Linked DNA regions of Homo sapiens: all the other regions are linked to region 1. Evidence: fine-mapped expression QTL. A gene starts in region 1. Each other region holds a variant in brackets. All regions are shown on one strand. Distances are between the middles of the regions.

The links.
Region 2: its variant is fine-mapped to the expression of AMZ1 in whole blood (TOPMed, PIP above 0.99).
Region 3: its variant is fine-mapped to the expression of AMZ1 in whole blood (TOPMed, PIP above 0.99).
Region 4: its variant is fine-mapped to the expression of AMZ1 in prefrontal cortex (BrainSeq, PIP 0.95).

What each region holds. Positions count from the first base shown.
Region 1 is chr7:2,686,060-2,690,187 of GRCh38, reverse strand. It overlaps AMZ1 (archaelysin family metallopeptidase 1), which reads right to left and starts at 1,986. Exons shown (of 7, transcript NM_001384743.1): 1 at 1,892-1,986. RefSeq lists an enhancer at 1,018-1,287.
Region 2 is chr7:2,707,955-2,712,124 of GRCh38, reverse strand. AMZ1 (archaelysin family metallopeptidase 1) reads right to left here. Exons shown (of 7, transcript NM_001384743.1): 4 at 3,409-3,537; 5 at 2,881-3,050; 6 at 2,309-2,485. Among named protein-coding and RNA genes, the nearest start is that of AMZ1, 22 kb to the right of the region's middle. RefSeq lists enhancers at 642-801, 1,442-1,491, 1,502-1,721, 1,867-2,562, 2,482-2,581 and a silencer at 2,162-2,321. The variant C/T (reference allele first, on the strand shown) is at 1,607.
Region 3 is chr7:2,726,840-2,731,009 of GRCh38, reverse strand. It overlaps GNA12 (G protein subunit alpha 12), which reads left to right. Exons shown (of 4, transcript NM_007353.3): 4 at 1-2,905. It also overlaps a transcript of AMZ1 not described here. Among named protein-coding and RNA genes, the nearest start is that of AMZ1, 41 kb to the right of the region's middle. The variant C/A (reference allele first, on the strand shown) is at 1,709.
Region 4 is chr7:2,719,488-2,723,657 of GRCh38, reverse strand. It overlaps AMZ1 (archaelysin family metallopeptidase 1), which reads right to left. Exons shown (of 7, transcript NM_001384743.1): 7 at 3,975-4,170. Among named protein-coding and RNA genes, the nearest start is that of AMZ1, 33 kb to the right of the region's middle. The variant G/T (reference allele first, on the strand shown) is at 2,542.

The sequences.
Region 1 (4,128 bases):
CACCTCCTAGTGCAGACTGGAGAATGGTGTGACAGGCTCCAAGCTAGGAATGAGAACGCTTAGCTCCCTCCATCCCTTAACACGGGTACAGCTCTCGGGCATCCAGGGCATGACGTCTGCCCACATACTATTTCCTCTCAAGAAGCCTTGTGGCCACATTCGTCTTCGTGGGTCATTCAGGAAAACCCCGGTCCCCACTGTCAGCTGCCAGCTGAGTCCTTCCATCCTGCCAGGTCATTTCTGCACAAGACCACTCCTCACATAGAGCCAGAGCTGCATGTGAGCCCTGGGGGTACCCACGGGGAGGGAGCCGCCTTAGTGGGGGTCAGCTTCGCAGCACCCTCTGGCACTCACCAACCCATCCATGCTCCAAAAAGGAGACCCCCAGATGGAGGTTTCTCGCTGTCCTTTGGACCCTGTCACAGTGTGTCCCCCTCCTCTGCTAACTGCAGTCATGACAGCAGCCAACAGGTCTCATGCCTGCGTCCTCCAAGCCACACACGGAGCCGCAGGTGCCACTGCGGTGTTTCAGGTGGGGAAACTGAGGCTCAGACGTTAAGTGACTTGGCCCTGGCGACACAGCTGGGGGCCAGCGGGGCCTGGTTTCAAAGCCACGCTTCACACTGGAACCCCAGCTGCTCCTGGAGCAGGGATGTTCTGACGGGGACAGGGGGTAGGACGTCTCCTCTCCCAGAGCACCCGAGTTCCAGCCCTGCTGCTATTAATACCATGGGTAAACTCAGACGCTTCTCCTTCCTCCTCCCCTTGCCTTTTTTTGTCCAAAGACTGGAAAAGAGCACGTCCGCATCCCCCCCCCAGGGAGGTTCTGCCGCTCTAAGCAACAAGGGCCGCCAGACTGGCCCAGTAACCAGGTATCCAAGGTCAGGCTGCCCTAAACCGCACAGCTCCGGGCACTCATGCTCCCCCATCTGACCACGCAGATGCCTGGCCTTTGGGCAAGAAACCATGCTCTGATTCTCGCTATTCTGAATGCGCTTTGCAAAACCTCCCAGCAGCTGCATCGAGCTATTCATTAGCTGACAGCGGAGACCTTCAGGCAGAACCAGACGGACGGATGGTTTTGGGGGTTTCTCACCTCTCAGTTTCCATTCGCTAGGAGGGAAAACCGGGGGCTTAGACCGCAGGGGTAGTGGCCTCCGGGCCAGACTCTTGGCTTCCTGTTCTCTCTCCTCACCTGCGAACCCCAAACTCCTCTGCCAAGTGTTTCCCTCCCGTGATGGGGGCAGAAAGGACCCAGGTCCCTGCCCTCCCCTGTCCTTTGTAAAGTTTGCCATTTCTCTGTCACCCCTCCCTTGCTTTTCTGGTTTTGAGACCTGTCTTACATCCCTGCAGGGATCATATCCACAGCCTTCTCCCTCAGTCTCCTGGGGGAGGAAGCCTTCTCCCTCCCCGGCTCATACACAGGCTGCGGGGAGCCCTGGGCACGACGAGATTCTCGGCGCCCTGGAGGTTCCCCGGGGACGTCCCGCACCCACCTGGCTCGCCCCAGCCCGGAAACGCCTTCTTTCGGGCGCTTGGCCCTGGATTCCCGACCCGTCCCCAGTTTGCTCCCATCGGGAAGCGCGCAGGTCGCCCTGGCCTGGGAGAGGATGGCGGGGAGGGGGCGCGTGGCCCTTCCCTGGCCCGGCCTTCCCTCTGCAGGACCTGCCGGGGCTGTGCGGACCCCGGCGCGGCGCTGCACCAAACCCTCGCCAAGTGCGCCCTTCGCGTCTCCGCGGTCCCCGCGCGCCCGTAGCCGCCGCCGCCCGGGCGCCCTCGGGACTTGGTGCGCGGGCCGGGCTGGACCCGGAGCTGCCCCTACCCACCCGCCCCGGCACGGAGGTCCCTCTCGGTCCCTGCGCCCCCGAGTCTTCCCCGCGCGCCCCCCTACCTCGCAGTCCCGCGCCCGCCGGAGCCGGCAGAGGCCGCGCCGGGCACCGAGCCCCGGGCAGCAGCGTGGGCAGCTCGGCCTGGGCCGGGAGGATCGGGAGGTCCCGGTGACGTCGGCGCGCGGGGCAGGGACCGAGGCGGGCGGGACTGGGGCCGGTGTGGGGCCGCGGGCAGGACAGGAGGGCCACACCCCTCCCGGCGCTCAGCGTCCTGCCCCACTCCCTCCAGCTGCCCGCGGTGGAGCTCACGTGGGACCCTCCAGCCTCCCAGAAACACCCGGGCAGGGGGGCCCCAGAGCCTAAAGCCAAACAGGTGAGGGAGGTCAGTCAGCCCGGGCCAGTTCGTGCCTCCCCAGGTGAGAGGAGTAAACCCGGCTACTCTGCAAGGCGCCAGGTGAAGAGGTGAACCAGGCCACCAGTTAAGGCCCCAGGTGAGAGGGGTGAACCAGCGCCACGAGGTGAGGAAGGGGAACCAGGCCACCAGGAGAGGCCCCAGGTGAGAGGGGTGAACCAGGCTATCAGGCAAGGCGCCAGGTGAGGGGGTGAACGAGGCCACCAGGTGAGGAGGTGAACCAGGCTTATCAGCGAAGCCCCAGGTGAGAGGGGTGAACCAGGCCCCTAGGTTAGCCCTACAGTCAGTGGCCCTGAGGACGGGCGCCCTGCCCTACCCTGGCCAGCTGTGAGTGCAGCCCTGGCCCTGTGCCAGCCACCAGGAGATGGAAAGGACTCTAAGTGCGGAAGGATGCCGTGAAGGCCGGCATGACGGCTCCAGACAGAGCCCAGAGGCCTTTTCCATAAACTGCCCTTTTCCTCTCTGCAAACCCTCCCAGCACCAGCTTCCCTCGGGCAGCCTCCCACCAGCTCTGCTTCACCGTGCAGAAATGCCCCCCACGCCCTCAGCAGCGCCCCACAGATGGCTGAGGGATTCGTCACCATCGTCCCACACCAGTGCAAAGAATTTTTTTTTTTTTTTAGATGGAGTCTCGCTCTGTCGCCCAGGCTGGAGTGTAATGGTGCAATCTGGGCTCACTGCAACCTCCACCTCCGGGGTTCAAGTCATTCTTCTGCCTCAGCCGCCTGAGTAGTGGGGATTATAGGTACCCATCATTGTGTCCAGCTAATTTTTGTATTTTTAATAGAGATGGGGTTTCACCTTCTTGGCCAGGCTGGTATCAAACTCTTGACCTCATGATACACCCGCCTCAGCCTCTCAAAGTGCTGGGAGTACAGGCGTGAGCCACCACACCCAGCCTCAAAGAATTTTTTTAAGCCTTAAGAAATAACACGGCTGGGCGTGGTGGCTCATGCCTGTAATCCCAGCACTTTGGGAGGCTGAGGCAGACAGATCACAAGGTCAGGAGTTCAAGACCGGCCTGGCCAGTATGGTCAAACCCCGTCTCTATTAAAAATAAAAAAATTAGCTGGGCGTGGTGGCTGGTGCCTATAGTCCCAGCTACTCGGGAGGCTGAAGCAGGAGAATCACTTGAACCCGGGAGGCGGAGGTTGCAGTGAGCCGAGATTATGCCACTGCACTCCAGCCTGGGTGACAAAGCAAGACTTTGTTTCAAAAAAAAAAGAGAGAGAGAGAAAAACAACACAACACTAGGTGTCCGGTGTGCAAAATTTGGAAAATTATGAAAAATAAAAACAAAAAGAAGACCCCATAAGCCAACTGTGTAGAGGTAACCTCTCTCACCTTCTTGTCAGACATCCTTCTGATCGCCTTCTCCTCCACATTGAAATGTATTTTTAAAAAGTTTTTTTTGAGACAGGATCTTGCTCTATTGCCCAAGCTAGAATGCACTGGTATAAACGCGAGTCACTGTAGCCTCGACCTCCTAGACTCCAGCAATCCTCCTCCCTCAGCCTCCTGAGTAGCTGAGACTACAGGTACGTGCCATCACACCTGGCTAATTTTGAAACTTTTATGTAGAGATGGGATCTCGCTATGTTGCTCAAGCTGGTCTCAAACTCCTGGGCTCAAACAACCCTCCCAGCTCGGCCTCCCAAAATGTTGAGATCACAGGTATGAGCCACCGTGCCCAGCCTAAATACATATTTTAAGGGATTCACGTCACATACTGCGTTCTGCAGGCGGCCCGTGACTTCACACTCATCAATAGCCAAAAGTCCGTCTCCACACCCTGATGGTCTGCGCTGGACTCCGTGTCATGGATCTGTCACCTGCTTTGGGATATTTTGGTTTCTCCTGGTGTCTCACTAGCATATATCACTGTGA
Region 2 (4,170 bases), 22 kb before region 1:
CCAAGAGCTCACCATTCAGGAACTTCGCAAGCTCCTTGTCATCCAAAGTTAGAACACTTAACATTTTTCGATTTTTTTAAGACAGAGGCTCACTCTGTTGGCCAGGCTGGAGTGCAGTGCTGCGATCTCAGCTCACTGCAACCTCCCCCTCCCAGGTTCAAGCAATTCTCCTGCGTTGGCCTCCTGAGTAGCAGGGATTTTACAGGTTCCTGCCAGCATGCCTGGCTAATTTTTACATTTTTTAGTGGAGACGGGGTTTCACCATGTTAGCCAGGCTGGTCTCAAACTCCTGACCTCAGATGACCCACCCACCTCCGCCTCCCAAAGTGCTGGGATTACAGGTGTGAGCCACGGCACCCACCCAGAAAGCGTATAATTAAATAAAATTTAAAATTTTAAAGCAAAGGTGTGGGCATGGTGGCTCACGCTTGTAATCCCAGCACAGGGAGGCAGAGGCAGGAGGATCACTTGAAACCAGGAGTTCAAGACCAGCCTGGGCAACATAGTGAGACCACCAGGGGGAAAAAAATGTAAAGCAAAGGCAGTACTTGAAACTCACTTCCTAAATGTTTTCTCCATTTCACTCTCACCTCTGCTCTCAAGGTTAGTCTCCTCTCCTGCATCTGTACAGGGGACACACAGTTTAACAAGGTCCCACTGCACATCTGTTCCCAACTCAGCACTCACTGACATCACATTGGGAGCTCACATCAGCCATCGTGAGACTGTTTACACCACAGGAAGTGGCAGAGACCACAACAAGTCAGGCTTTCTTCAAGAGGCATTTCACTGATTGCTGTCAGTGGACAGCAGTGACCTTTTCTGGCCAGGCCCTTGGTCAGCTCTCCAGCACCTCCCCAAGCCCTGGGACAGCAGGTGACCTCACATCCACACCACTGCCCTCCCTACAACAGCCAGGAGGGCCAGGCCACCCTGGAGTGCCTTTGCCCTGGCCCTCTTCCCTCCACAGCCTCAGGAGATGGTGCTCACGGAACGGAGAGAGCTCTGGGCAGGAGGAGGAGCTACACCCTCCAGCTCAGATCCAGGTGGATCCAGGCTATGCCAGGTCAGCACGTGTAGGGAGGGGCATACACTTTCTAAAAGTTCATGTCAGATGGTTGCACAAGACCCCAGGTGAAGGCATCAAATGAGAGCTCTCAACCCTTTCTGCAGACCAAGCTGCCCCTGTGCCTGTTACACAGCCTCAGGAAGGTACTAAGAGCTGCCCCTTGACGGGGCACAGCTGGCAGCAGCAACCTTTACAAGGCATCACCAGGTGCTGACCAGCCATCACGCCACCTGTACCCTCGGGAGATGCTCCTACCCTCAGCCATGGCTGCGCCTGGGTTCCCCCCAAGTCACAGGCTCTTCTCCTTACACTTGGAAAAGCTGTTTCCTCTGTGCCCCCTTCACCTTCCCTTGACTGCCAGAGTCTTCAGAGAGGATCCCTGCAGAGAGATTCCAGCACTGTGAGCTAGAAATGCCACGGCCTCTAGTTCAGTGTCACCCAGGACCCTGCAAGATACAGCTCCTCACTCTACCCCAGAAGGAAGGAGGGCCCAGCTAGGCCCTGCAGGGGATTCTGACAGGCTCGGTCCGGGAACCA[C/T]ACCCCCACTTGCCTCAACGGGCGGGAGGAGGATGCAGGGGCTTTCCAGCGCGGTTTCATTGACTGCTCTGGTGCCTGTACGCAGTGAGCACCTTATAACTGGTTGTAGTCCAAAGCTGGGTTTGAAGAAAAATTACCACCACCTGCCTTTGCACTCAGAACTCAGAGTAAAGCTTTTGAGCTTGCAAACAAATGTCCATGAATACGGACGAGCCCTTTGCTCGGCAACCCCACCCAGGCGACAGAGGGAGTTAGGAATGGAGGCCACCTCCAACAAGCCTTGTTGTGTCAGCTCCCACCTCCTCGCAAGGGGCCTGTGCCTCCTCTGAGCAGCAGTGACCCAAGTGTGGGTGACGGGAAAGCAAAGAGAAAGTTACCCTGGGAAGACCGTGCCACCCGCCGGCTGGGCTCCAATGCCAGCTCTTCCTGACAGAGGGAGAAAAGCCCTCGTCCCCACTCGACCCCGCTGCAACCTCCCAGTCACAGCCACCACACGCGGGCCCTGGCAGGACTCGATCTACTGCCAGTGAGATCCGGATGGAGCTCAACCCCAGCGCAGGTCCCAGGGCTCTGCACTGCCTGGAACCCGGCAGTTGACAAAGCCTGTGTGCGGTCCCCATGCCCTGCGTAGCCTCCAGGCGGCGCTCGCGGGCCTCCGGAGCGCAGGTCCCAGCAGCCGGGCAGCGCAACTCAGCCACTCACCTGGTACCTCTCGATGAGCCTGAAACCCAGGACATGCTGCAGCTTCCTCAGGCAGATGGGACAGAGGTCCAGGGGCCGCCGCAGGGCCTCGTCCAGGCTGAGCGCACCCTGCATGAGGCAGCGGAGCCAGCGGCAGTTCCCCAGGCCCAGAAGGTGGCAGAGCTCGTGGCACGTGACCTGGGGGGAAGGCCACCAAGCACCTTGCCTCACTGCCTTGCCCCTGCATCCGGCAGATCCCCAGGCAGCCCCAGCAGGACCAAAATGAGGACCTGGGTGAGGCCAGATGGCCGGGAGGTGGTCCAGGCGCCCTCCCCCTGCCCCAGGCGGCACAGGCCACTTTCAGGGCCCCAGGGGAAAGGTGAGTCAGGGTGGGAGGCCACACAGGATAGGGGCTTGGGGCTCTAATCCCTCCCCTGCTGCTTCATAGCTGTGTAGCCTTGCTTTCCTCATTCCATAGAGTTAGGGGTCCATCCACTTCACTGTGAGGATGGGGCAGTGTAACAGACCGAGGCACCAAGGGCTCAGACAGCACCCTCCTGTCCCCTCTTACCAGCCCCAGAGCCCCCACCCACCTTGCAGCACTGAACCATCCCCAGGGCACTGAAGCACAGGGCCCAGCCCCTGTCCTGCAGGGGGGCCTCGGGGCCGTCTGCTGCTGCCTCTACCAGGGCCAGATCAGGGGCGCTGGGCCCCGACTTCGGGAATTCCCCTGAGAACCGGGCGAAGCTGCAGACGCCCACTTCTGGAGAGAGATGGAGAGAAGGGCACTCTCAGGGGTCAGCCTTGGCTCTGGGGGGCCCACCGTCAAACCCACCTCATGCTCTCATGCAAGCTGGCCATGGCCCAAAGACATACCAGTCCTGGGAGGCCCTGTCCTGCCCACATGAAGTTGGGCCCTGGGGCAGACGCCACAGCTGAGGAACAGCCCCTATGCCATTCCTCAGGAGGAGCTGGAAGGGGCCATCTATTCCCATGCACAGGTGTTGACTTCCACCAGGAGGGTGCTTGAAGCAAAAGCAAAGAGGGTGCCCTGCAGCCACGGAGGCCACAGCCCCATGCCAGGCTACCCCCCACGCACAGCTGCTGGGGCCCCGGCTCACCGTGCCCTGGAAGGAACTTGCTGAAGGTGAAGCTCCAGGCCTCATGGGGGTACAGGTCAGACAGTGTGAGGCCCAGCACACACAGCGCGTCCCCTGGCTTGTTGTTCTTCAAGAAGGACAGGATGCCGTCTGCGGGGAGAGGGCCAGAGGATGGGGTCAGGAGGCAGCCGGGGACCCCCATCTTCCAGGCTCAGGCTGGCACCCCGTCATCCTCTTCCTCTGCCTGGGCCCTGCCCCTTCCCAAGTCAGGTGTGGGCCACCAGCGTTTGGTGTGACCTGAGGGCACACAGTACTGCATGATGTGGAGTGACAGCCAGGGCCATTTGGAGATCAGGACATGGTAAGTCAAAGGCCATGGACAGCCCAGTGGGGACGCTGGAGAGGCAGCCGGGCCAACAAGACTGGCGCTTGCAGCCCCAGGAAGGAGAAGCCACCTCAGCAGCTGAGCGACAGCCCCAGAGAGTCCACGTCTCAGCCCTGGGACCTGTGAGTCCCCACAGCCAAAGGGGCTGCAGATGATTAAAGATCTTGGGATGGAGGCGTTTTTCTGCAGCAGCCAGCTGAGCCTGATGCCATCACAAGAACCCTCGGTAAGGCCGGGCACAGTGGCTCACACCTGTGATGCCAGCAACTCGGGAGGCCAAGATGGGCAGATCACCTGAGGTCAGGAGTTCGAGACCAGCCTGGCCAACATGACAAAACCCCATCTCTACTAAAAATACAAAATGAGCCGGGCCTGGTGGTGCGTGCCTGTAATCCCAA
Region 3 (4,170 bases), 41 kb before region 1:
GACATGGAAACTGTCACGTTAGCTACTGAATCCTGGGGGCGAGTGAAACTACTGAAAATCCGAGTGATGATGTTGTGAATACGGAACACCTAATCACACAGCTTGCTTTGCTTTTACAGAAACGTTCCTCTTTTTCTGACGCAGTTTAATTGAGGACCGTGTTGTGTGTGTATGTGTGTACACACGCTCTGTCTTTAATGACAGAAACACAAAAACCAGCTGGCCTTGCAGACGGCTTTTCTAACTCACAAGTCTTCCCTGAGACAGACTAACCTGAAAGCTTTGCCTAACAGTAGCTTGTAGAGATCCAGTGCACGCCGATGCTGCTAAACTCAGTGCCTGAGCCCGGCCCTGCAGCCCCAGCCGCAGTGTCTGAAGGCCACCTCCCAAAGGGAGCACGTTGCCTTTTCAAACTCCCGTGCCGATTTCCTAAGAGCCCCTAGTCCAAGCCTCTCAGATGAAGCTGAGGAGCCGTGCCTAGGATCCCTTCCCAGCTCTGAGGACGGGCTGCAGAGCTCTGCAGGTGTGGATTCACCTTACGCCCCTACAGCAGGCTCAGCCCTTCCCACCCTGCCCCATGCCCAGCAGCACAACACGGAGTGAGACAGGATGCCCACGGTGACTGCCGCTCCGTCCGTGCACACACAGCGGTGCTCTTCTCCCCTTAGCCACCCACTGCCCAACCCAACGGCAAAGACACAGAAACCAGGTCCCCTTGCAGACGGCTCTCCCATCTTCCTGCAAGTCATCTGCTCACACACAGTTGGCAGCACATAGCGTTTCCTTCTTTCAGAAACATTCCTCTTCTGGGGCTTCAGAAAGCTGGCAAGGCCACTAGCAGAGCTTTTGTTAATGCCCCAGCTGCTTGGCGAGCTAACAGCTGACCTTTCGGGAAGCCCACAGACGCTGGAGGAATCTTGAGTTTCTCCAAACTGCCGCTCCACCAGTGCCTTTGGACAGCCGTGCCTGTTCGCCGCTCTCCCTAAGTCTGATTCTCATCGAGGCCCCTCGCTTCTATGACTGTGCTTGCAGAAGAGTAAACACTCTCGGATGCCGCTGTCCTGGGGGAGCCCGCGGGAGCCTGTGAATGTTGATACGAGCTGGCCAGTCCTGGGCCCAGCTCACTTGTCCAGCTACCTGCCAGGTGGCTTTCACTGTGTTTAAAATACATTGCATTCCAAGCTGGTCCCCTCTGTGTATCACTCTACTGAGAAATCCTGCCTAGTGTGTTTTGGGATGTGTCCTAGCATTTACAAGAAAATGAAAAGCGTCCTCTTAATTGGCACCCGAATGTTGCTGTGGCTCAGTCACATATCCCAGGGCCCTCGTCCCGAGGCCGTGCTGCCCCGAGCCCCGAGCCCCTCTGCAGCTCACCCTTGGCTTGTTTTCCGCAAACCCGGTAAACGCAAGCCCTTGGGGCAGATGCAGAAGCAGAAGAGGGAGGGGAAACCTGCCTCTGGGTCACCCTGTTAGCACAGCGTTCTCATCGGGAGACAGCATGGAACTCTCTCTCGCAGTGCTCGAGGCTGTGTGTCAGTGTTTGCTGGGCTTGTGGCTCCTTTTTTGGCTGGATAAAGAAGTCGCTGTTTTTGTACTGCTTCTGTGGCTCTTCACAGACCTCACGGATGTGACCGGAGATGAGTGCCGATGACCACGTTTTAAAGGAGAAAGAGAGCTCCTGGTGGGGCCCTCGGGGTGGTCTCAGGTC[C/A]CATTTGCAGTCTGCAACAGTGACGCGCAGCCCGGTCCGGAGCGTGGTGAGCTTTGTTTGCCTTCTGGGTCAGCTTTCGCTGTGTCTCCTGTGTGTGTTAGAATCCAGAGCCCAGAGGAAGTGCAAGCGGGTCCTCCGCCAACGGGGAGAGCCTCTTCGCGGCGCTGTTGGCGACAGCAGCGCTGTGATTCGCGTAGCAGGGGAGTTGTTTGAAACACCTTCCTGAGTAGTCCGGCCTTGTCAATGAGTGCTTGTTTTCCTTTAAACAGTCTGACATATTTACTCGTCACTTTCAAACCAGAAGCATGAGAGGAAGGAGATATTGTGGGGTCCGTTTAACTCGATAGAAAGCGCAGGGGGATGGCCCCCGGCGCGGGCTCTTGACCCGCTCAGCGCTGACCCCACCGCCCTGGCCGAGGCACTTGGCCTTGCTGAGCTGGACTTCCTCCTCCTCCTCCTCATGACCGGGGTGAATTAGAACGTTTTTAAAGACACCCCCTTCCAAATTCTGTAACACATTGTAATTGGAGAAGAAGGAAACTCTGCAAGGCTAAACTGTCATTCACAACTTGGCTACACATAGACTCTAGTCAGTTTTGTCTCCAGAACCTTAGGCTTTTGTATTTTTTAATTTTAATTTCACTGTTAATCCTTATTGTCTTTTTTATTAAGATGTTGGAAAAGCAGGAGGTAGTTGTGCCTCAATTATTGCAAAAATGTAACAATAAAGTTCCTCAAAATAAGATCTGTTCCTCATAGCTATACTGTGTACACATAAGACGCATATAGGGTTTTACTGAAATCTATTTTTAACTCTTATGTTCGTAGAGAAATTGTTTCAAGGATTTTGAGTCATAGGTCTGTAATTTATAGAGATCTCTAGAATTCTTATTGTAATTTTCCTACTTCTTTGATAAAAGAAAAATAAGTCAGATTGTTAACTCCAAGATTGAAAAAAAAAACTCTTGAAAGAAGATTATTAGTTGTAACTAATTTAGGGGTTCTGGGCACAGACATCTAACCTGGTATTGTAAGGCAGAGGCTCCCATTGGAATGGTAGTGGTCCGGGTCAGTTGTTCATGGTGTAAGCTTTGCACAGTGTATTAACATTGGGAGGGTCTGGCTTGAAAATTTGGCCACCCTCAGCCTCTGAATGTTTATTAAAATAAATTTAGTCTTTCTTTGCTTAATATAAAATAGTGCCAGTATTCAAAACCAACACTAAATTGATTTTTCATTCCCCAGGATTCACAGCAGATCACTCTCATCCTAATTTTTTTTTTTTTTTTTTTTTTGAGACAGAGTCTCCCTCCACCTCGTGGGTTCAAACGATTCTTCAGCCTCAGCCTCTCAAGTAGCTGGGTCTACAGGCGCCCGCCACCACACCCAGCTAATTTTTTGTATTTTTAGTAGAGACAGGGTTTCACCATGTTGGCCAGGGTGGTCTCTATCTCCTGACCTCGTGATCGGCCCACCTCAGCCTCCCACAGCCTCCCACAGTGCTGGGATTACAGGCATGAGCCACCACACCCAGCTCTAATCCTAATGTTATTTGAAGGTGGTTTATTATTTATTCATCACAGTTTTTATTTCCACATACCAAACAAAGCCTGGCATGTAGGAGAACCATTGTAAATAATACAGGTGTGGCTCACACCTATAATCCCAGCACTTTGGGAGGCCAAGGTGGGAGAATTGCTTGAGTGCAGGAGTTTGAGACCAACCCAGGCCACAAGAGACCCCATCTTTACGGATAGAATCAGCTGGGCATGGTGGTGCATGCTTGTAGTGCCAGCTACTTGGGAGGCTGAGGCAGAAGGATCGTTTGAGCCCAGGAGCTTGAGGCTACAGCGAGCTGCGATCGCACTCTGCACTCCACCCTGGGCAAGAGCAAAGACCCCATCTTAAAAATAAATGAAGATGGCCGGGCGCAGTGGCTCATGCCTGTAATCCCAGCACTTTGAGAGTCCGAGGCGAGCGGATCACAAGGTCAAGAGATCGAGACCATCCTGGCCAACATGGTGAAACCCCAACTCTACTAAAAATACAAAAATTAGCTGGGTGTGGTGGTGGGCGCCTGTAATCCTAGCTACTCGGAAAGCAGAGGCAGGAGAATCGCTTGAACCCGGTAGGCAGAGGTTGCAGTGAGCCGAGATCATGCCACTGCACTCCAGCCTGGTGACAGAGTGGGACTCTGTCTCCAAAAAAGTAAATAAATAAAGTTGTGTTCCAGAGGCTTTTATTCAAAACACTTTTTATTTTTAAAGCATGGCATGGCAGCATATACACCTAAACACATGCATGTGAGCATGAGAGGCCTCGCTCTCCAAGATCAGAAGCTGGGAGGGGAAGGACCTTGACGTGCTCTGGAGACCAGCGGTGCCCATGGGGATGGCAGGTGGAGGTTCTGTCCTCACAACCCCTGGGGTTATCGTTCCAGCCAGAAAGCGAAGAGACCACTC
Region 4 (4,170 bases), 33 kb before region 1:
ATCGTCCCCGAGAGCTTGGGGAGCGCCGAGGGGGCATGCAGGGCTGTGGCCAGCAGCGTGAACCCCTCGAGACTGTGGCACCCCTCCTCCTCCTCAGTCCGACAGCTGGCTCCCAAGGGATCTCCCGCAGCCTCGGGGTGATGCAGGAGATCTTCGCCACCAATGTGTTTCCCATCTGTGCTCCTCAAAGAAGGTCAGTACAAACTAGGCCGAGGACACTTGGTCAGGTAGGAGACTTTGAAACTCGGGCATCAAGAACTGAACCAGACCTGCATCTGGAAATCACACGAATGAAGTTGGTTCTTTGTGGCTCTCCCGCTCACCCAGGCTGTCTGGATGCACCCGGGTGCATGTTGCCACATTCCCCTGCAAACAGGTGCCAGCAGCTCTTGTGACTTAGCTGTGGGTGACAGGTGCTGAGCACGCGTCTGCAGCAGGGCCCCCACACAGCCCACAGGCACCGTGGGCTGTACACTCTGTGGTGCTTTCTTATTAGGAGTCAACCTGTTCAATTTTTTTTTCTTCTTTTATAAAATGTACTCAAGTCACATATAATTTCTACACCACTCACAGGTTGTACAACTGCCATGCAAATGCATTTCAGATTTACTTTTTTTTTACACAGTGAACCTTCTTGATTTTTATTTTGTTTTATTTTATTTTACTTTATTTTATTTTAAATATAGGGTCTTGCTCTGTGGCCCAGGCTGGAGTGCAGTGGTGTGATCATAGCTCATCGCAGCCTCAAAACTCCTGGGCTCAAGCAGTCCTCCCACCTTGGCCTTCCAAGTAGCTGGGACCACAGGCATGTGGCCACCACCCGCACCTGGCTAATTTTTAAATTTTGTATAGAGATGGAGTCTCACTGTGTTGCCCAGGCTGGTGTTGAACTCTTGGCCTCAAGTGATCCTCCCACCTCAGCCTTCCTGAAGTGCTGGGATTACAGGCATGAGTCGCTGCACCCAGTCTGGGTTCTTAACAAGCCTATGCAAAATTTAAAATCTCTGTTGCATCTGTCAGTCTCGAATCTCAAAAAATTACCTTTTGACCTGTCAGGCAAATTGGTTTAAAACATTCAAAATGTCCTGGCTGGGCACGGTGGCTCACGCCTGTAATCCCAGCACTTGGGGAGGCTGAGGCGGATGGATCACGAGGTCAGGAGATCGACACCATCCTGGCTAACACGGTGAAACCCCGTCTCTGCTGAAATATAAAAAATTAGCCGGGCATGGTGGCGGGCGCCTGTAGTCCCGGCTACTTGGGAGGCTGAGGCAGGAGAATGGCATGAACCCGGGAGGCAGAGCTTGCAGTGAGCCGAGATCGCGCCACTGCACTCCAGCCCAGGCGAGAGAGCGAGAGTCTGTCTCAAAAAAAAAAAAAAAATTCGAAATGCCCTTTTTCTTAACTCCATTTGAACCAGCTCACATCGATGGGCACAAGCGTCGCCAGGAAATTCAGTGTGGTAAGCTTGGCACCTACTCATGGCCACCGTGTCCTGAACTCCCTTTCCTGTGCTCAGGCCCCAGCCCACGCAGCAGGAGGACACACTGCCGAAGGGACCAGTTGGACGGCCTTCTGGCTTTAGCGCCTGTGCCTTTCAGGACCTTAAATACAGAAAGGAACCGAGTGCTCTGTGCAGCCCCTCCAAGACGGTCGCTACAGCGCCAGCACCACCTGCGCCGGGCCATCATGCCGTGACCGGACTTGGTTTACGAATACAGTGTACGAGGTTAAGATATGATAAAGTGTAAAAATATATGTTATAGCCACGGTGGTTAGTTTAACATGTTTTGTATATATGATTTTTATAAATCTATTAAAATGTGCCTTAAATTACACCTGTTTTCCTGGCGTGTTATGTCCCTGCCTCCCCCGCCACTGCTGAGAAGTGGGGGGCCCCTGAGTGTGGCACCCACCCGCCGCTATCTTTTTTTTTTTTTTTGAGACGTAGTCTCGCTCTGTTGCCCAGGTTGGAGTGCAGTGTCGCGATCTCGGCTCACTGCAACCTCCACCTCCCAGGTTCACACCATTCTCCTGCCTCAGCCTCCCAAATAGCTGGGACTACAGGCATCTGACACCACACCTGGCTAATTTTTTGTATTTTTAGTAGAGACAGGGCTTCACCGTGTTAGCGAGGATGGTCTCGATCTCCTGACCTCGTGATCCACCCACCTCAGCCTCCCAAAGTGCTGGGATTACAGTGACCCACTGCGCCCAGCCCACCTACTGCTTTCAAACAGAAGAATGTGTGTGGCAGTGGATTCTGCAGCATGCGTCGCATCCACGGGCTTCCAGAGTGCGTTCCACCGTGGGGCAAGCACCTTTCCCGAAGCAGAGGCCTCCTCACATCTTCCACACATCTGCGGTGCGCGGCAGGAGAGTGAGGTGAGCGCTCAGCACAGGGCCCGGCTCAGGCCTTAGTCCCTGTGCTTCCACTCCTGAGCTCCACCCTCCCCTGGCCTTTCCATCCCTCCCAGGCACAGGCGTCCTGGGTTGCTCTTCCTCCCGGCATTGGCAGGAACCTCCCGCGCCACCCAGTGT[G/T]TCTTCAATAGAGTCGGTCGTTTTGCAGCTGCTGGTCGCCACCACCAGACCTGTGGGCGTAAGGCAGGCAGCCAGCGATGACAGCCCGCAGGGTCACACAGGAAACATGCTGTGACATTCGTATAAACAGAAATAACGGGCTGGGCGTGGTGACTCACACCTGTAATCCAGGCACTTCGTGAGCCCGAGGCAGTAGGATTGCCTGAGCCCAGGAGTTCAAAACCAGCCTGGGCAACGTGGCTGAAACCCTGTCTCTACCAAAAACAAGTTTTTAGTTAGCTCAGTGTAGAGATACACACCTGTAGTCCAGCTACTTAGGAGGCTGAGGCAGGAGAGTCGCTTGAGCCCAGGCATTTGAGATAAGCCTGGGCAACATAGCAAGACCCCTGTATCTAAAATAATTTTTTTTTTTTAAAGGCTGGGCGCAGTGGCTCACACCTATAATCCCAGCATTTTGGGAGACTTCGGTGTTTCACTTGAGGTCAGGAGTTCAAGACCAGCCTGGCCAGCACGGTAAAACCCCGTCTCTACTAAAAAATACAAAAATTAGCCAGGCTTGGTGGCAGGCGCCTGTAGTCCCAGCTACTTGGGAGGCTGAGACAGGAGAATCGTTTGAACCCAGAAGGCGGAGGTTGCAGTGAGCCAAGATCGCACCACTGGACTCCAGCCTGGGCAACACAGACTCTGTCTCAATAAATAAAAATTCAAAAAAATAATGATCCCCTCCAGCCCCCAAAACACACACTAGTCTTTCTCTTTTTGTCACAGCGCATAAAAAGTGTTCACCCTGACGTGGGGAGACATGGAAACGGGGAGTGAACATTTGTGAAGTGACTCTTCATTTGACAGGTGTTTTAAAAGCCTCCAGCAGTGACTAAGTGTTTGTGGATGGGCGTCCGCGTGGGTAGATGAACCGGTCCATGTCAGCAGAGGAGCCGAGTCTCAGAGGGGAGCCGCGCTTTGCACGGAAAGCTCTGCAGCAGTGCGTGGCAGCCCTGTCGGTAGGTTCCCGTCGGCTCCTTGCCTTCTCAAATGCAAGGAATTGCTTATCGAATTCAACAGACACATTCTCTTTTCATTTAGCCTTCCAGAATTTCATCCTCTTCGTTTAAGCCCTTTTTAAAATTTGGAGTTGAGGCTGGGCACGGTGGCTGACGCCTGTAATCCTGGCACTTTGGGAGGCCAAGGCGGGTGGATCACGAGGTCAGGAGTTTGAGACCAGCCTGGCCAAGGTGATGAAACCCCATTTCTACTAAAAATACAAAAATTAGCCGGGCATGGTGTGGCAGGCACCTGTAATCCCATCTACGTGGGAGGCTGAGGCAGGAGAATCGCTTGAAACTGGAAGGCAGAGGTTGCAGTGAGCCAAGATCACACCATTGCACTCCAGGCTGGGCAACAAGAGCGAAACTCCATCTCAAAAAAAAAAAAAATTGGGGTTGATAGCATTTATTAATTTTGAGAATGAAAATGTAAGATGTAAGCATTATAGAAAAGCTGAGTAACAATTTATTTTGTATATCAAAGTCGTCCATCAGTCATTGCAGTATAAAATGTTCCAGGTGTATTTCCACTTGGACTGGATTTTTAAAAATAACTGTGCCATACAATCGAGCGGTGATCAAAGCT